2 linked regions of the Homo sapiens genome follow. The protein of the gene in region 1 interacts with the protein of each later gene in a biochemical or structural test. Each region holds a gene or a part of one and is shown on either strand. Other genes may lie near its edges.

Region 1 (3,829 bases):
GCCCTTGAGAGATACTTGCTATACCTGACAAGTTTTGGTATGTGTAGGGTTTTGTTTGTTTGTTTTTAAAGAAACAGGGTCTCACTCTGTCTCCCAGGGTAGGCTTAAGTGACCCTCCCACCTCAGCCTCCCAAGCAGCCAGGACTATAGGCATATAAGCATCTACCACGACACCTATCTAATTTTTAAATTTTTTTTGTAAAGGCCAAGGTCTTACTGTGTTGCCCGGGTAGGTCTAGAACTCCTATTTTTTTTAAATACTCGTGCTTTCTTTTTTAACCAGGAATTATTTAGAAGTATGTTTTTAATTTCTAAATATTAGAGATTTATAATTTTTTTGTTGTTACTGACTTTAATGAATTGCAGTCATAGATGGTGGTCTGGAAGAAAATAGTTAAGATTTGCTTTATGGCCTAGTATTAGTCAGTTTTTCCATTTGTGCTGTGGAAGACTATGCATTCCCTAATTGTTAGATGTAAAATTAAAATCAAGTATCTTAACTACTTTATCTTTTATAGCTATCAATAATTGAGGAAGCTGTGTTGAATTCCATAGTAGTGGACTTGTCAGTTGCTCCCTATAGTTCTGTCAGTTTTTGCTTTGTATATTTTCATGCCATTTTATTAGTGGCACAGTGGCTCACGCCTGCAGTCCCAGCACTTTGGGAGGCCAAGGCAGGAGGATTGCTTGAGGCCAGGAGTTCTAGACCAGCCTGGGCAACATAGGAAGACCATGTATCTTAATAAAAAAAAAAAAAAAAAAAAAAGTAGGTGCACTGCACTAGCTCTGTTTTGGTAAGGATTTTTTGCCTGGTATGTTACCACCACCACCCACCCTCAGTCTTTTTACTTTCAACCTATGTCCTTGTTTTTAGATTTTTTTAAATGTGTACTCCACAAGTGGCTAGGTTTTTTTTTTTTCCTTAATCCAGCCACTGGATTTAAATGGACAGTCTGTTGCTTCAGTATGGTTATTGTGGTTATTAACATATTGGGATTTGTTTCTCCTTATGTTTGGTTTCTTTTTGGTATTTAAAATTTTTTTTATTTTTCTTCCTTTCTTGCTCTCCCCAACACTCCTTTTTATTTCTGCTATTTAATTGGTTCCCCTTGAAATTTTTCATGCATTCTTAACTAAACAAGATGTAAAAATTAAGATTATAAACCCTTTTCTAAATTATACAGGACCATAGAACACTTAAACTAAAAATATGGTACTGTTATAGTATTCTTTTCTTTTTTAACTCCACATGATAAAGATATTAAAATTACAATATTGACTTGTTATCAGTATATGTGTATGTATATACCAATTTTCTTTGTTTAGTAATAGTCATTCCTGTCCTTTATCCCTTACATCCTAACCTATTTAACCCAAAGCTTGATTAGTTTATGATTTAATCTTTCTGTGATTCTTTTTGGAAAAAATAAACAAATAAATAACTATTGGCTTATCTCCCCTTTGTTTTCATTCTAGCTTAAGTAAATGTTTAGGAATTCCCTTGAGGTCCAGAAACGTGGAGTCACATCAAATTGTGTTCTATTTTGCATTTTTGAACATGACTGTGGATAAATCGCTTATTTTACCTGCTTTTATCAGTGTCCTGTTGGGAGACAGGAGCAGAAACCACTTTGCATGTTTTTAAAAAGGAAGGAATATGATTTTTAGGGAATAAGGTTACAAATTATTAGAAGGAATAGAGGAACAAAAGGGAGGAAGATGGTGTTTCCAGAGGTAAGGATTACAGAAAGCCTTTGACCCTGCAAGGATGAGTACTGTTCAGAGTCCACCATCGTCTGCCTCCCTTGTCGTGTAGCTGCTACTAGAGCCCCTGTTTATCTGCCATATGTCCCTCTGTAGGAGCTCACAGGGGCGACTGCTGTCTGCTGTTGGTGGTGGCATCACCAGGAGCAGAATGGATTCTTTCTCTCATGCCTTTTAATCTGGCATAGATGCCGTTGACAGAACCTAATAAGAACTCAGTAACTGTCAGAATATTAATGCATGTCCAAGCACTTGAACTAACTTATCATTAAGGTCCTAGAACTGCCTAGCTCTGTAGAATGTTTCTGTAGGATTCATGAAAACTTTTGTGGAAGTCTTAATGGTGTTTACCACATTTAAAAATCTAGATTAGGTCATCTTTTCCCCCCTGTTAAATCCAACTGAAATTCTGAATCCAGTTAGGAAGTTGCAGCTAGCAGGGGCTTTCAGTTGTGCTATGTATTTGGCAAGAAAGTTCAAGAATCGGCTTGTTTTTTTCTAAGACATGTTATAAATTCATTCTAAATATAAATGACATTTGCAGCTCATAGATGCTGTTTTACCCAAACATTTTTTAATTTAATTAAGCATGCTTAATATGATATATCAATGTATTCCTTATTAAGAAAACAAGGGAATGCGGCTGGGCCCAGTGGCTCATGCCTGTGATCCAGCACTTTGGGAGGCCGAGGCGGGCAGATGACCTGGGGTCAGGAGTTCGAGACCAGCCTGGCCAACATGGCAAAAAAAAAAGAAAAAGAAAATAAGGGAATGCCCGGATTGTGTACAAGGTATTTTCCTTTATATATCAAATGGAGGAAACCTGCAGAAACACTGGAAACCAGAGTAAGTTGCTACCTACATACAATTTTCCTTTAAAAATTTTTAAGGAATTCGGGGAACTATTAGACTTGGAGAACTATTTCAAATCAAAGGAAGAAGTGGAGAGCTCTCACTTCCTAGGCTCAAGAAAGCTGAATTTTTATTGGAAATGTAGGACTCCAGTAACACCCTTAATTTGAAGGTGCAGGGACTAAAGGGTGACAATTAGCTTGGGATCCTTTTCAGCCAAAATTATTTGAAGCCAGCTGTGCAGGGAAACCCAAGAGTAGGCCTCTCCTCCCACATCCACTTCTAAACTGCAGCACTGAGAACACCCTTGGGCTGCAGTAGATATCTGCAGTGAGGGCTGAGCCACATCGAAGCTGTGCAGTGACTCAGCCCGCCTTCCTACATTAAACTTGGTAATCTTACATTTATGTTTATTTCTCTGGCTTTGGTGATGAATATGGTATAGTCATATCTTACATGGGGTTAGGTTCTAATGTTAGTAAGGGAAAAAAATCACATATAGCTAAAATCACCCTTGACAAAATTCTAGAGAAGGCATAATCATATTGGAGACTGCCCCATCAATTCTCAGTAGAGCAGGTAGTCACTTTTATGTCCAGCGTTTGAACAGATGGCTAGATGGCTAGGGTGATTCTTAAGTTGAGTGCTAGCTAAGGTAATAGGCTTGTATTGTACGGGCTGAGATTTTAAACACTGCAATGATAAACAGCATGTTGATGTACTTATGCTCTGCAAGATACCCAACGAGAGACTAACGTGGGAATGGCAGGTTTGCATCACATACCTCACACTTACCTCTCTGGAGCATACCCTTCTTGAATGGAATGACTGGTAGACTCACCACTATTTAAATTCTCTATTTCTGGCTAAGTGCACATAATTGAATGTCGTGCATGTCAAGTGAGTGAATGACGTGGCCACTGTAAAGAGATAACATAAATGGATGAATCTGCAACATAAAAAGAGGCTCCACAGAAAACAGTATTTGACAGAAGCAGCTTTTTTCTCAAAATTCTCCGAGACTGAAAATGAGAAGATCTAACAACAAATGAAGAAGCAGTTCAGGATGAAATACTGATAATATATAAAGTGAATGAAGCTGATTATAAAACATGTATGAGAGCTGGATGTGGTGGTGCATGCCTATAATCCCAGCACATTGGGAGGCTGAGGTGAGAGGATAGCTTTGAGGCCAGGAGTTCAAGACCAGTTT
Region 2 (3,829 bases), on another chromosome or scaffold:
TGAGTTCTAGCATTCTGTAGTACTGTAGGGTGATATACTTAACAATAGTTTATTGCATATGTTCAAAAATCTAGAAGAGAGAATTTTTAATTTTTACTGTTCCCACCACAAAGGAATGATAAATGTTTCAGGTAATGGATATGTTAATTACCCTAATTTGATTATCACACATTGTATACATGTATGGAAATATAATTCTGGATCCCACAATTATATACAATTATTACATATTCACTAAAAATAAAAGAAAAATTAAAAATAGAGTAGCATATGACCCAGCAATCCCTCTTCTGGGTGTAGATCCACAAGAAAAGATTTCAGCATATCTGTTTCCAAGGGCCCCAACACAGTGGCTCTTGCTTGGAATCCCAGTGCTTTGGGAGGCTGAGGCAGGAAGATCACTTATAACTATATAAGGAATTTTAAAAACACTAAAACTAATATTTATTTATTTAGCAAACCAGAATTTAAAACATTAGAAATTAAAGTGTTTTATTTCTTTGTAAAAAACTTATCAAGAGTAATGTAAATAGTGTTTGTCTTCTTCTCATTGTATAACTTCCTATACGGAGTGGACATGTTTTTTATATTTTACAGAATTGTCATACTCTATTCTAAATTTGAATTAGGAGTTTGAGACCAGTCTGGGCAACAGAGTGAGATGCTATATCTACAAAAAATATTAAAAATTAGCCAGGCATGGTAATGTATGCCTGTAGTCTCAGCTACTTGGGAGGCCAAGGCAGGAGGATCTCTTGAGCCCAGAAGTTTGAGGTTACAGTGAGCTATGATAACACCACTCCATTGCAGCCTGGGTGACAGCAAGACCCTGTCTCCAAAAAAGAAAAAAAGAAAAACATAATAGCCACAACTAAAGTGTCTACTGATAGATAGGTAGATAAAAAGATTGTGGTACATAGATACAATGGAATATCAGTCAGCCCTAAAAAAACAAGATCCTACCATTTACAACATGGATGAACCCAGACAAAATTATGCTAAGTGAAATAAGCCAAACACAGAAAGAAAAATATTACATTATCTCACATATATGTGGAAGCTTGAAACAAAATTCAAATATACAGAGACTACGTAAAAAACAGGGTTAATAGGGGTGGAAAAGTAGGTAGAAAATAGGGACATATAGGCCATAGGATCCAAGCAAGTAGCAGATGTGTAAGATGAAAAAGTGTACAGATCTAATGTATGAGGACTGTAGGTGATAAAATTGTACTATATTTGAGATTCATGATAAATAAGTGGATTTTAGCTGCCCTTGCCACAAAAACAACAAAAAAGGTAACTATGAGAGATTATGAATATATTAATTTGCTTCAATATAGTAATTTTTTAGTGTCTAATGTATCTGATAGCATCATGTTGCATACCCTAAATATACACAATTAAATTTATTTTTAAAAAAGAATGCCACTAGGCCGGGTGCAATGGCTCACGCCTGTAATCCCAGCATTTTGGGAGGCCGAGGTCGGGGATGATGAGATCAGGAGTTCGAGACCATCCTGGCTAACATGGTGAAACCCCATCTCTACTAAAAATACAAAAATTAGCCGGGCATGGTGGTGCATGCCTGTAATTTCAGCTACTCAGGAGGCTGAGTCAGGAGAATAACTTGAACCCAGGAGGCGGAGGTTGCAGTGAGCCGAGATCACACCACTGCACTTCAGCCTGGAGTGAAATGACAGATTGAGACCCTATCTCAGAAAAAAAGAAAAAAAAAAGAATGCCACTAAACCACACCATTAGAACTTATAATTAATTATTTTTTATAAATATCTTATGCAACATATTTTATATTTTTGTAGTGCAACCCCAAAGAGATAGGTATATAACTTAAAAAAACGAGATAAATGAGAGTCCTCATAAGGTTACCATGTATCAAACCAATCAGTTGTTCTTTGAGGTCATAATTATTTACTAATAATCTGTAATTGATGGTTAGCCTTTAATTTATGAGTAATCTGTAATTGATAACGTACACCTACAAAATAGGTGCCAAGTGGTTATGTGACTAGCAAGGTATAAATGCTGTAGGGACACCAGAGCTGATGGCTTCCCTGAGCGGAGGTGTCCCACACACACCCTATCTTGTCTTCCCAACCTCAAAAGAGCACAGAGTGGAGAAGAAGGTCAGAAGTAATACCTGAGAGTTTTGAGAACTCAGTTATCCCTGTTGTGCATGTTATGTTGACTTTGTCAGCTTAGTGAGGTGAAGCACATTTTGACTTGAGAATTTGCTATCAATTTCACTGATGGCCACTGCTGCTTATTGAGCAGAGTGGCATTGGAAGACACTCAAAGATCATCATTTTCTTGTATTTATTGCATTTATATTACTGAGCATTATATAAAGATAATTAAATCTTTCTGCTTTTGGATTTAGATCTAATTAATTTCTGAGTCATTTGAAGAAATTTTTGTCTATTAAATTGAAGTATGTTGATTGAAAATTGGTGTACGCAGATAACAAAAATGGAGGGAACAAAACCCATAAAAATAACACTGATCATTAAGGTAGTTCTTCAATGAGTTAAAAAGTAGTTGTTAAAAGTATATTCTTATAAAGGAATGAGATTACTTTTCTTATGAGGCTTCTACCAAACATCTTCAGCCATAAGTGAAATTATAAAATGGTCTTTGGTCGCCTCCAATCTTTCAAACTAGTTATGTAATGAAGGATAAAAGAATAAATGGAAAACGTGTTGGCAAAGTAATTATTCCGTTGGAGAGTTTATTTGATAATAATAACCATGGTTCCTATATATAAAAGTGTGCTCAATTATTCATATGTCCTGTCTTATTATGACATTCCCACAAAAACTGCAAGGTAGTTGCAGTTTTCTAAATCATATTTTTTACTAATCAGGGAAGTGATGCTCAGAGATGTTAAGTACGCTTCCCCAAGACCCTAAAGGTGATAAGTGATGTAGTCTCAACTAAAACTTTGGTTTGTGTGATTAGTGCATGTTCTTTCCACTCTATCAGTAGTCAGCAAGCTACAACATACAAGACAATTCCAGCCCACCACCTGTTTTGATAAATGAAGTTTTATTGGGACACAGCCACACTAGTTATTGTTTATGACTACCTTCACACTTCAACAGCAGAATTGAGACATAGATTTTTTTTTCTTTTTTTTAGACAGGGTATCACTCTGCCACCCAGGCTGGAGTGCAGTGGCTCGATCTCAGCTCACTGCAACCTCTGCAGTGAGCTGTATGGCTCAAGCCATCCTCCTACCTCAGCCTCCTGGGTAGCTGGCAATACACATGCATGCTACCATACCCGGCTAATTTTTGCGTTGTTTGTAGACACAGGGTTTCACCATGTGGCCCAGGCTGGTCTCAAACCCCTGGGCTCAAGTGATCCACCAGCCTCGGGCTCTCAAAGTGCTGGGATTAAAGACCTGAGCCACGGCACCTGGCCAAGACATAGATCTCATGGCTTAAAATACGTGCTATCTGATTCCTTACCCAAAATTTTGCCAATCCCTGGACTATACTATTGTGTCTTCACATGGTCATTTTTTATCTTAAATTCTGTGTGTAAGTTCAACTCTCAATTAGAACTCAGAATGTAACCAATAAAAAATTTATAGAATGTGCTATGTGTTAAATGCCATGAGAGACATTGAAAATGATTTCAATGAACAGTTAAAAGGTAACTAAGTCAAAGAAACTTGTGCTTGCAGAACTTGGAAATCTGAGGACAAACGGAAAGATATTGATAAACTGCATGTCACTGATTCAGTATTCCAAATTCCATCTAAAAAGGTATAATTCACACTTCATAAAATATTTAAAATTAACTC

What was found.
Region 2: the proteins of ARPP19 (region 1) and SNCA form a complex in vitro, tested with the Homo sapiens proteins (one study listed by BioGRID).

The regions. Positions count from the first base shown.
Region 1 is NC_000015.10:52,558,872-52,562,700, reverse strand, and holds part of ARPP19 (cAMP-regulated phosphoprotein 19), read left to right. Parts: intron 1-3,829. UniProt on the Homo sapiens protein: Protein phosphatase inhibitor that specifically inhibits protein phosphatase 2A (PP2A) during mitosis. Inhibition of PP2A is enhanced when ARPP19 is phosphorylated.
Region 2 is NC_000004.12:89,830,333-89,834,161, forward strand, and holds part of SNCA (alpha-synuclein), read right to left. Parts: intron 1-3,829. UniProt on the Homo sapiens protein: Neuronal protein that plays several roles in synaptic activity such as regulation of synaptic vesicle trafficking and subsequent neurotransmitter release.